2 separate regions of the Homo sapiens genome follow, and region 2 is linked to region 1. A link means that fine-mapping ties the variant in region 1 to the expression of a gene that starts in the linked region. Tissue or cell type: lymphoblastoid cells. Region 1 holds a variant in brackets; the other region holds the start of a gene. All regions are shown on one strand. Distances are between the middles of the regions.

Region 1 (5,260 bases):
TGATTAGGACTCTTATAAACACTCAATGGGAGTGGAAACTGGCACACCCACTCTAGAGAGCAATCGAGCAACTCCTTGCAGAGTTGCAGAAATGCCCATTGTATTAACCATGCTTTCTTATTTTGTGAATTTTTGATGTTCTGGCATTTGTGGCCTCACTGATGGGGGCAAGGCTGCCCCTCCCAGGGCTACCCCATTCTTAGAGATAGCAGAGGGCTGGGGTGGGTGGGGCAGCGGCGCCTCTCATATGTAAACTAGCCCATGCTCTGATCCACCCTCTCTATCTGGCTTTTACACTCCAAGAGGCAAAATCACCCAGAGCCAGGCACCAGTCAACTAGAGACCAACCCTATGACCCAGAGCCCGCCACCTTGATTTGAATCAGCCAGTCCTAAGCTGCTTCCCTGCCCCTAAGCTGCTTCCCCGCTTCCCTTCCCTTTCCCACGGAAAACACCGTAAAGGCTCTGGGCTGTGCTCTCCTTTCGTCCCTTCTGCCCCATGACCGAACCTGGAGCTTCCCCATGCAGTCCTGCATGGCAAGGAAATGTAAGTATGTGCAACAGAAATCTCTTCAATGACACTAGCCTCTCCATGTGGTAACTCAGTCACCTCCATCAACTGAAATCCTGTGGGTACCATTGATAAACCCACATTGTGACCTGAGAAATTCCTATGCAGGGCCAAGGAAGGATGTACACAAAAGGATTCACTGTGGCATTGCTGGTTACAGCAAAACACTAGAAACAACCCAAATGTCCATCAGGAAGAGAATGATACATGTTGTCCCATGGTCTCATAATGGGTCACCAGAAAGCAGGAAAATGGAAAAGACTGGAGCCAGGGATCATAACACCAAGTAAAAACAGCAATTTGCAAAATAAAGGCAATGTGTTTGTTTATGTGAAATTTTTAAAAAGATTTATAAAACGATAGTATATATTGTTTATGAAACATATTAATATACTGAAAGTATAAAAAACATGGAAGGGAAAGAGTCCCTTCAACCTGGAACACTCCCTCCCTGGTTCTCCTGGGAGGGGAAGTGAAAGGTGATATTGATTAGGAAACAGTTTGAGGAGGTTTCACCTTTACTTGTGACGTCTCATTGCTTTAAAACCAGGGAAATAGCTGAGCCAAATGTAGTAAAATGTTAAGATTTCTTCAGTCTGGCTGGTGGGTATATGAATGTTTGCTGCACTAGTTTGGGTACTTTATGCTAGAGCTCTTTCATTATAAGAAAAAAGATACTATTTAGACTGCATGAATAATCTCAAGGTCCTACAAAATAACAACAGCTCAGGAAGCCAGCAAGCTTCTCAACTGTGCCCATCTCAGCTGTGCCAAACTTTCTCCTCTCTCCTTACATTGTACCTTTAAAAATTCCTGACTTTTTGGAAACATTTAAACACTTCTACCCCCACCATGGATATGTCTACATGTTTGGTCAAGTATTCAAAAATTAAGTCACACACCTCAAAAGGCCAGTGCTACAGTGGAGGGCTGTTTAATTAGTTATCAGGACCAGGCATGGTGGCTCATGTCTGTAATCCGAGCATTTTGGGAAGCTGAGGGGGGCGGGTCACCTGAGGTCAGGAGTTTGTGACTAGCCTAGTCAACATGGTGAAACCCCATCTCTACTGAAAATACAAAAATTAGCTGGGCGTTTTGGCACATACCTGTAATCCCAGCTACTTGGGAGGCTGAGGCAGGAGAATGTCTTGAACCTGGGACGCGGTGGTTGCAATGAGCCGAGATAGTGCCATTGCACTCCATCCTGGGCAACAAAAGCGAAACTCTGTCTCAAAGAGAAAAAAGTTATCAGACCCCCACTGTATTTTTCAGGAGGGGTAGGGAAGAGAAAAAAAATCTACTTCTTGGCTTCTAACAAAAATAAGTTGGTAAACAATTTCTAAAAATATATACAAATTTTCAAATTAAGTTTTCAGAATTTTCATGAATCAGTTATTTTACCTACGATAACAAAGTATCTATACCTTAAAGTATTTCTTTTGTTTTTACTAAAAGCAAAGGGCATATTTCATTCATTCTTCTCAAAATAAGGGCTACATTTTACTAGAAATATTTAAGAGCTCTTGCACTGGCCATGAGGTTTTCAGCAGCAAATATCAAGGGAACAGTGACTAAAAACAAAGACATTGAGTTATCTGTCATCATAGGAAGCACACACACAAATGGTGTGGGGGTTGGTGCAGTCACACAAGAATCTCATCAAGGACCCAGGGTTTTTCTTGCTTTCTCTTATACGATTTTTGATGCCTTAGCCAGCCTTCAAATTTGCCCTTGATAATACCCACCCTCTGGTATTCACACTTTTCCTACATTTTACCAGGGCTGGTCTGTGTGACCAATAGAATATAGCTGAGATTACATCAGAGGTTAGGTTATAAAAAGGCTGCAGCTCCCATCTTGGGCTCACACACTCTCCTTCCCTCATTCTCTCTCTCACTCTCTTCATCTCTCACTGAAGAAAGTCAGCTGCCAAGAAAGTTGGCTCCCAATAGAGAGGCCCACTTGATGAGGCACTAAAGCTTTTGTCAACATTGACCAAGAACTGATACCCACTGGCAACCAGAAGGGTGAGTTTGGAAGTGGGTTCTTTAGCTCCAACGAGCCTTGAGATGACTGCACCCCTGGCTATCAGCCTGAATGCAACCTTGAGAGACAAGAGCGAGAACCACCTGCTAAGCCACTTGCAGTTTCCAGACCCTCAAAAATGGTGTGAGGTAATACATGCTTATTGTTTGAAAGTGCCATGTTTCAGGGTAAATCGTCATGAAGCAATGGGTAACCAATACACTCAGTGTGTCTGCCACGTTTCCCCTGATGGATGTAAAACAGTTGTCATAGATCCGCACACCATATGCTCCCAGGACAGTGTCTCTGTCAGGAAGAAAATGGGATGGGGCTACAGGGGTCTCCCTGTGTGCCTTTTACCTTTTATCAAGGAGGGAAATCTTTCCAAGAAGCAATCCAGCAGAGTCCCTGTTACTTCTCATTGTCCAGGGGGGTGGGGTCTG[A/T]TGATCACCGTGAGCTCATGATTCACCCTTAGCTGAAACCAAGGACCAGGCCTTTCAGCTGCTTTACAGGGAGGTGGGCAAGGAGTAAGTGGGCCGCAGATGGCTGCTGGTAGCCAGCAACAGTCTCTGCCAGCCTCCCACAGGCTCCATTTGTCTGATTGTTTGCACCTGGCATCCTTCATGCTCCATATTTACTGTAAGCTGGAAGTTAGGCCTCAATTAGATTCAGGTGACATCGTTTTGGCAAGAATAATCACGGGTGATGTTGTGACCTTCCTACTCTACCGAATCAAGAAACCACCAGGTTCTTCACTAAATTAACATTTTCAGGAGGTAAGCAAAGGGTGATACCCCATCAGGTAAAAGCCAGTCTGGAGTCTATGTGCATCTTTCTCCCCAGTATCCATCCTGGGTGGCTTCACATATCTTAAACTTATGGGAAGTCCAGTTTCCTCTAGAAATTCATTTTGGGTTGTCTTGTTGGAAGTGTGTGATAAGCAATCTGTTTCTCCCACGTGATTTCCTCAGGGATGGATGAGTCAGACAAGCAGTGTTAACTTAGTTAAAAAACACCTGCAAAGATCATGAGATGACTAAAAATCAAATACAGAGATGCTGGAAAGTGATTCTTCCTCGATGTCATTCGCTTGAAGTTCTTAGGGCGTGAGTAGAGGGTCAGGAACCAGGGCGAATGAAAGGAACCTTCTCAAGAGTTTAGCACCCAGCAGAGGACAGGCTGAGGCCTGCTGCTCACCAGCCCTTGTCAGCTGTGGAGACCAGTCTGCCAGGCTCAGCCTTTGGGGTCCAGGTTAGCAGCTCCTCCACGGCCTTGCTGGGTATAGTCACGGATTTCTGGCTGGCGTGTTTGCATGGAGGAGGCTGTGCGTCATTGCTGTCTCCACGTCCACAGGGAACAGAAACATATGTGCATTCGTGGAAGTCAGCCGGGTCCAAGCAGGTGGGGACAACGGGGGCCATGTCAGGATGCACTGTCTCTGAAGGGGTGGTGGGTCCCCAGCCCCCCAGGTGCCTGAAGCCCATGTACAGCAGGTGGCCTTGCTTTCTATTTCACTGGGATGACCCGGAAAAAGAAACTTATCCATAGCTGTCCTCCCCTCAACATGACCCCACACCCTCCTCCGCCTGCTTACCCTTCTCTGCTGCCTCAGTGGCAGGGATCTCTGTCCTTGGTTCTGGTGCCATCCCTGCCCCCCCCATGGATAGTGCCCATGTCTTGCTGTCATCTCAGATGCATCTTAAAGTAAAATCATCCTCCACCCAGCTTCCCCAGGTCTGTTCCAGTTTCCCCAACTCTGCAGGAGGCAGCCCCACTCCTCCCTACCCCCAGGCTAAAAGTGAGGCCTCAGCCTTGACTCACCCTGCCCATCCAACCAGTCCCTGGCCCTGAGAGTCTTCTGCAGCAATAACTTCATTAACTTGTCTTCCTGCAGCTGCCACCCTGGCCTGGCCACCATCATCCTAGGAGAATGGGCCACCATCCTCCTTCCTCATTCTCCAGCCCCAGTCTCATCTTCCTTCCAAGGCTCTGCATCTTGAGACCTCTCCAAGCTCCTCCTCATGTCGCATGTGGATCAAGCCTTCCCCTTTGGACCCTGCCTTTCTATTCCACCTTATCTCTGGGGTCTATCTGTTCCAGAAGCCTTGACTCTTACTACCCTCTGATAACCACAGACGTGCCGTGTGCCAGGCGTCCTACAGCCATTACCTTTAGCCTTTACAGCTACTGTGCAGCATAGGAATGACAGTATTGTCCCTTTCACAGATGAGGAAAACTGAGGCCCAGAGAGATCATGCACAGGTCACACTGCCTGTAAATAGCAGAGTTGGGATCCAATGTCATGACTCAGAAGGGTTCTCATCCAAAGCCCTTCATCCTGTGAAACAGGTCCCATTACACCCCTTCCCTTCTCTGCAAGGGGCTCTTGCTGCTCCTCGACCAGTGCCTGCCTGCTCCTCCCAGCTGCCTCCAGTCCCGCAGCCCACACCTCCGCCGCACAGCTCCTCAGATGTTCCAGCCCACACTGCTCAGCCCCGCCTCCTAACTTTTCTGGCAGGAATCTCAGCCCTGCACAGTTTAGTACTTAATTATAGATTGCCTTGTACAGTTTTCTGCTTATTTCACATTTGCCTGTCTTGTTCCCAAGAAGCCTGCAAATATCTGATTTGGGGATGGAGCTTCTGTGTGCTCCTGTCCCCCAGGG
Region 2 (5,000 bases), 720 kb after region 1:
TTAAAATCTCCGACTCCCAAACCTGACAGCCACATGCACTAATCTAAGGCACTGCATTCTTACGCACCTAATCTAGACAATCCCCAAATCTGTCACTCCACTCCTGACACCCCCACTCCCAGTAATTTGCCTTTCTGCAAGTTATTACTCTGATTCCCAAACTATACCCATTGAAGATCTTACCCTAATATATGTTACACTCAACACCAGCTGGGTTCAAATCAGACAGGCACCTCTGGTCCTTCAACAGGGCTCATCCATCCTTACCTGCCCACCATCTAGTTCTTCTCACGCTTTGGTGTCCTTCATTCCCCCATTCCCTTCCCAAACCACCCTCATTTCAATGTTCTTTCAAACCAGATCTGCCATCATCCAAATGATGAAGCCACTTCTTCATTTCCCTCACACTGAGCCCTTGTGCTCCAGTATCCTTCACTCCACAGACTCTCCCACCTGTGCCCTAAAATCCTAGCCCTCACTCAGTCTCATTCCATCAGTTTCCAGAACCCTCACTTCTCAGGTCCAAAGCACCAATTTATCTCCCAAACTTCAAGTTCAACTGCTGTAAATACAATCTTAACCCTGTAAGACAGCCCTCATTCCCAAATCACAACCAAATGCCAGTCTGGTCTACACCTTCCGCCATCAACAATTTTCAAATCTGTCACAATTAGGGTCTAGTCAGGCACCTTGATGCCCCTGACTGAATCTCCTCATTCCTTGTCATATTCCTGGTCACACCCACAAATCTATTACCATTCCTCGGATCCCAGATTTCAATTACTCTCATTCTCAAGGCCTTCTCATTCCAGTTGTATTTTGCATTCTCTCGGTTCAATTATAAAGATGGTAAAATCTGACACCCACCTGCCTCAACTCAAATCTTGGATGGGTCTCCAATTCAATTTTTACCTTCCTCCCCCCAAGCTTCTTAACTGGAAAATTCTGGCCTAATGACCCCCATCAAAACTGTACCCATCCCAGCCACACCCACCTAATTCTCACACCTCCACACGCCCTTCATTCCAGCTCACTCCTCAAGCAGCACACTTCATCTGTACCGCATTGCTGGCCACCACCAAATCTGCCAAGTGCCTATGCATCCCTCTGTTCCAGAGACATCCCTACCTCGGTCTCAATTTCTGGTAGTCCCTACCTATCCTGCCACCTATGTCTCCACTGTCCCTTCTGCCCAATTTCAATACTCCCGTGCCCCTTCTCCTCATCTGCCCAGATACAAGCACTGTGATTCCTCTCTCTGACCCCAACTATGACTTCCATTTCCTCCTCCAAATGCGTCATCCCCCTTCCCCGCTTAAAGCCTCCTCCTAGCTCCCCTCTCTAGACAAATCGCTGCCACTCCCCTCCCCCAATGCTGGCCCTATCTGTTCCCCTCCCCCCATACGCGTCACCCTGTCCCCTCCTCCTACCAAATCCGTCGTCGCCATCAAATCCAGAGCCCCCATCTCCGGTAAACCGATAGCATTCCCCTGCAAAAGTCTTTGCCTTCGCACTCTCCCACCAAATTAAATCACAATGCAACCCAAGACCTCCGTCTCCTCTGTCCACCCCCAGTCTGGTGTCCTTCTTTCCCTCCTAAATTTCTGGCCCTGGCGCCCACTTTGTCCCCACCCCAAGACGTTTTAAATCCATCTCTATCAAATCCAGAGCCTCCGTTCCCCTCTACCCCAATTATGTGCTCCTCATTCTCTAAACACTTTGCCTGGGCCCCCAACCTTCCTCCCCATCTCTTCACCCAAACTTCTTGCCCCTCCCCCAATTCTATTGCTTCTTCCCTCGCCCCAAATTCGCTCCCTTCCCTATCCCAAGTCCATCGTCCCCACTCCTTTATCTCCCAAATATGTTTTTCCAGCCCATCGCTCCCTCCTTGGCACTCCCCCAAATCGCTTGTTCCTTCCACCCTCTCCCGTATCTGTTATTACTCTAACCCCTTGGTCTCCTTTCTGTATCCTAAAACCCGTGACCCCTGCGTTCCCAACTCCCTCACGGCTTCCCTCCCATCCCACCCACTCGGCCCCCCAAACCCGCCGTCCCCACCCCTCTCCCCAAATCCGTCGCCATTGACTGCCCGCCCCAATCCTCCAAATCCTGGCCTGTCACCTTCACATCAGCCTCCCATCTCCCTACGGCGCCTCTGGTCCCCCACCTGGATGAGCAGCTTCACGTAGAGCAGGGGATGGCTGAGCGCCGTCACGCCCGCGCCCAGTGCCACGAAAAGAGCCTCAGTGGTCGGGGCGTTGTCCCCAGACCCCAGGCCCCCTGACCCGCCATCCATCCTGCGGGCCGAGGGCTGAGCCGCAGGCCGAGGGTGGCGAGGATGTGCGCGGTGCGCGGGCGGTGGATCGCGAGCTCGAGCCTCGACCCCCGCCGCCGCTCCGCCGCGAGCTCCGGCTCCAGCTCCGGCTCCCGCCATCCCCGCGGCACCGCCGCGAGCCCAGGGCGCCACTTCCGGGTCCGAAGCTCCCATGGCGCCCGGCGGCGAGGTCACTCCCCGTCACGTGACGGGGCCACGCCCCCTCACCGGCGTCAGGGGGCGGGGCCGGGGCGCACCACTCCAGGCCGCGGGGGAGCTCGGGAGCGTGGTGCGGCGGGTGGGACACGCCGGATGTGGCTCCCCGGCCGGTTGGAGGCCTAGCAGGACACTGGGCTGCGGGCCGGGGGTCAATGGTGGCGGGCAGCCGGGGCCCCGGGCTCGGGAGCTGTGGCGGCAGCCGCAGGCCGGGGCGCTCCCCCGGGATGCCCAGAGCACGCGGGGGCGGGGTTCGGCGCCTCTGGCTGCCAGACGTCCCCAATATGGTCTGAGGCGCTTCCAAGCCACCTCCCTGGCTTCGGGAGTTTTCTCTGCAGTTCTCTGCCCGCCCCTTTGCGGCCCAGATCCCAGTCGCCGCGGCCTGCGTGGAACTCTGCGCGAGCTGAATCTCCTGCTGCAGGACGAGCCCCGACCCCGAGCCCGATCCCCTCCGCGGTCCCAGCCTCTTTGTCCGATCGCATTTTCCATCTCCTCTGCCAGGAATGCTCTCCCAACCAGAGCAAATCCAGATGTCCCCTCGGCGACTGTGGGCACCCTCCCCAGCTGTGGAGCCTTCGCACGCCTTCCTCAGAGTCCGTGGTTGTAAAATTTGTTTTGCTCTAAAGTATTTGACTGTCTCCCTCACTAGATCCTGAGGGTTTTAGTGAGTGCCTCAGTGTGAGCACATGCAGGCACTGCTAGGCGCCTGTAGTTGATTCTTAGTTAATACAAGTGAATAATCACAACTAGACCTTAAATTGCAGGGACTATGTGACAGGCACTTTTTAAAATGCTTTATACGTGTTGATTTAAGTGTAATCGTCACAAGAACCCTGCGAGGAAGATAGGACAGCAAGTGCCCTGTTCCTGTTTGTAAACGTGCCCGACACTCTGCAACAACACCTACAACAGAACCGTGCTAGTTTTGGGGGTTCGCAATAAAAGTTTCTGTTTGAACGGATCCTAGAGTGTGCAGGGACACAGCAATGGAAGACCTGGTCCCTTTGTCTGTACTTAGTCTATAGCCAGTTCATTGTGAGAAATTTCTTTAGATCGACACCTGCCACTGTTAGTCCGGGTTTCCCAGTCTGTCCTTTCTAACTCCCTTCCTGCCTTACCCCCTAAAAAGCTACCTCCCCTCTTCCCACTCCTGATAATGAACACTATGTACTTTCCACGTTCAAAGCATGCCACACTCCCTCTCTCCCTCACCTTGGCCTCCCTAACCCAGGCTTGTCCTAGTGAAATCACTTGCAAAGCCTGCTAACCCTTTCAACTTGCTGTGTTTTCTCCATCAAACACAATTTTCATCAAACATCCCCCAGGAGCACCTTAAATGACTTCCTTTTGCCTAGGTTCTGATTTAGCTTTCTCAATAAGGACCTCAAAGTCAAGTTCCTAGTGCCACACTAACTCTCTACCCAGAAGAGGCGATAGGTTTTAGTTTGGGGGTGGGGGGTGGGGGTAGGGGAGGATGATTTACTTCCCCATCCTTCTGAAACTTCCTCACAGGAACCTTTTCCTTCTTTGGGCTTTTCGTCCCCATTTTTCTCCAACTGTCTGTTTTTCTTTCTGAACTTGGCTGTTCACCGTTGAGCCTTTTACTCTGCCTTACATGGTCACCTAACTTTGGGCCTATACTGTATTTGGCCCTTTCAAACTGTAGTTTCATGTGAAGCAGCAACTTTGTGTTGTCTTGCATTGTTTTGTATCTTCCACAACATCAGATATAGGACTATGCACATAGTACATGTTCAGTAAAGTATTTCTAAATGATCGAACAATTTCTCCAAGTGAAGAAATTGAAGGAAAAATAGATCAGCTAAACCAGTTAGACCCGTAGGGTACCAAGCAGAAGCAAATGTTAAACTGCACAATAGCTGTATTTCTACAACTCAGGGCTCACAGAGACTCCAAGAGGAAGAAAAAAAGAATCCTCACAATAAAAAATGTATGAGCCGCTCAAAGAAACGTGCCATCATGAGAGAGAATGGGCAAAACAGGAAGAACTTGAGATAATAGAACCATCTCAAAGAAAATTAAAAGGAAAGAAGTAGGTTTCAAATGAAGGCAAAGATAAATAATAGGAAGTACTAGTAAAAAGAACAGGAATTGTAAAGGAAAAAAAAAAACAGGTGTATTTGAAAAGGTGCCAAACAGAACATCTAGAAATGAAAAGTATACTCACTGAAATGATTGAATGAAAGAAAATCTTCCTCAGCAGTCAAGCTACTGAGCAACCTGGCAATAAACCTTTAGAGCTATAAAGGAGTTAGCTCTGGCCAGGCGCGGTGGCTCACACCTGTAATCTCAGCACTTTGGGAGGCCGAGGCGGGTGGATCACCTGAGGTCGAGACCAGCCTGGCCAACATGGTGAAACCCCGTCTCTACTAAAAATACAAAAATTAGCTGGGCATGGTGGCGCATGCCTGCAGTCCCAGCTACTCGGGAGGCTGAGGCAGGAGAATCA

Evidence for each region. PIP is the estimated chance that this variant, and not a neighbour inherited with it, causes the effect.
Region 2: it holds the start of MTCH1, and the variant in region 1 is fine-mapped to the expression of MTCH1 in lymphoblastoid cells (GTEx, PIP 0.90).

What each region holds. Positions count from the first base shown.
Region 1 is chr6:36,263,540-36,268,799 of GRCh38, forward strand. It overlaps a transcript of PNPLA1 not described here. Among named protein-coding and RNA genes, the nearest start is that of PNPLA1, 3.9 kb to the right of the region's middle. RefSeq lists an enhancer at 4,629-5,215. The variant A/T (reference allele first, on the strand shown) is at 3,039.
Region 2 is chr6:36,983,686-36,988,685 of GRCh38, forward strand. MTCH1 (mitochondrial carrier 1) reads right to left here and starts at 2,511. Exons shown (of 12, transcript NM_001271641.2): 1 at 2,168-2,511. The coding sequence starts at 2,488. RefSeq lists enhancers at 2,065-2,787, 2,906-3,115 and a silencer at 2,226-2,815.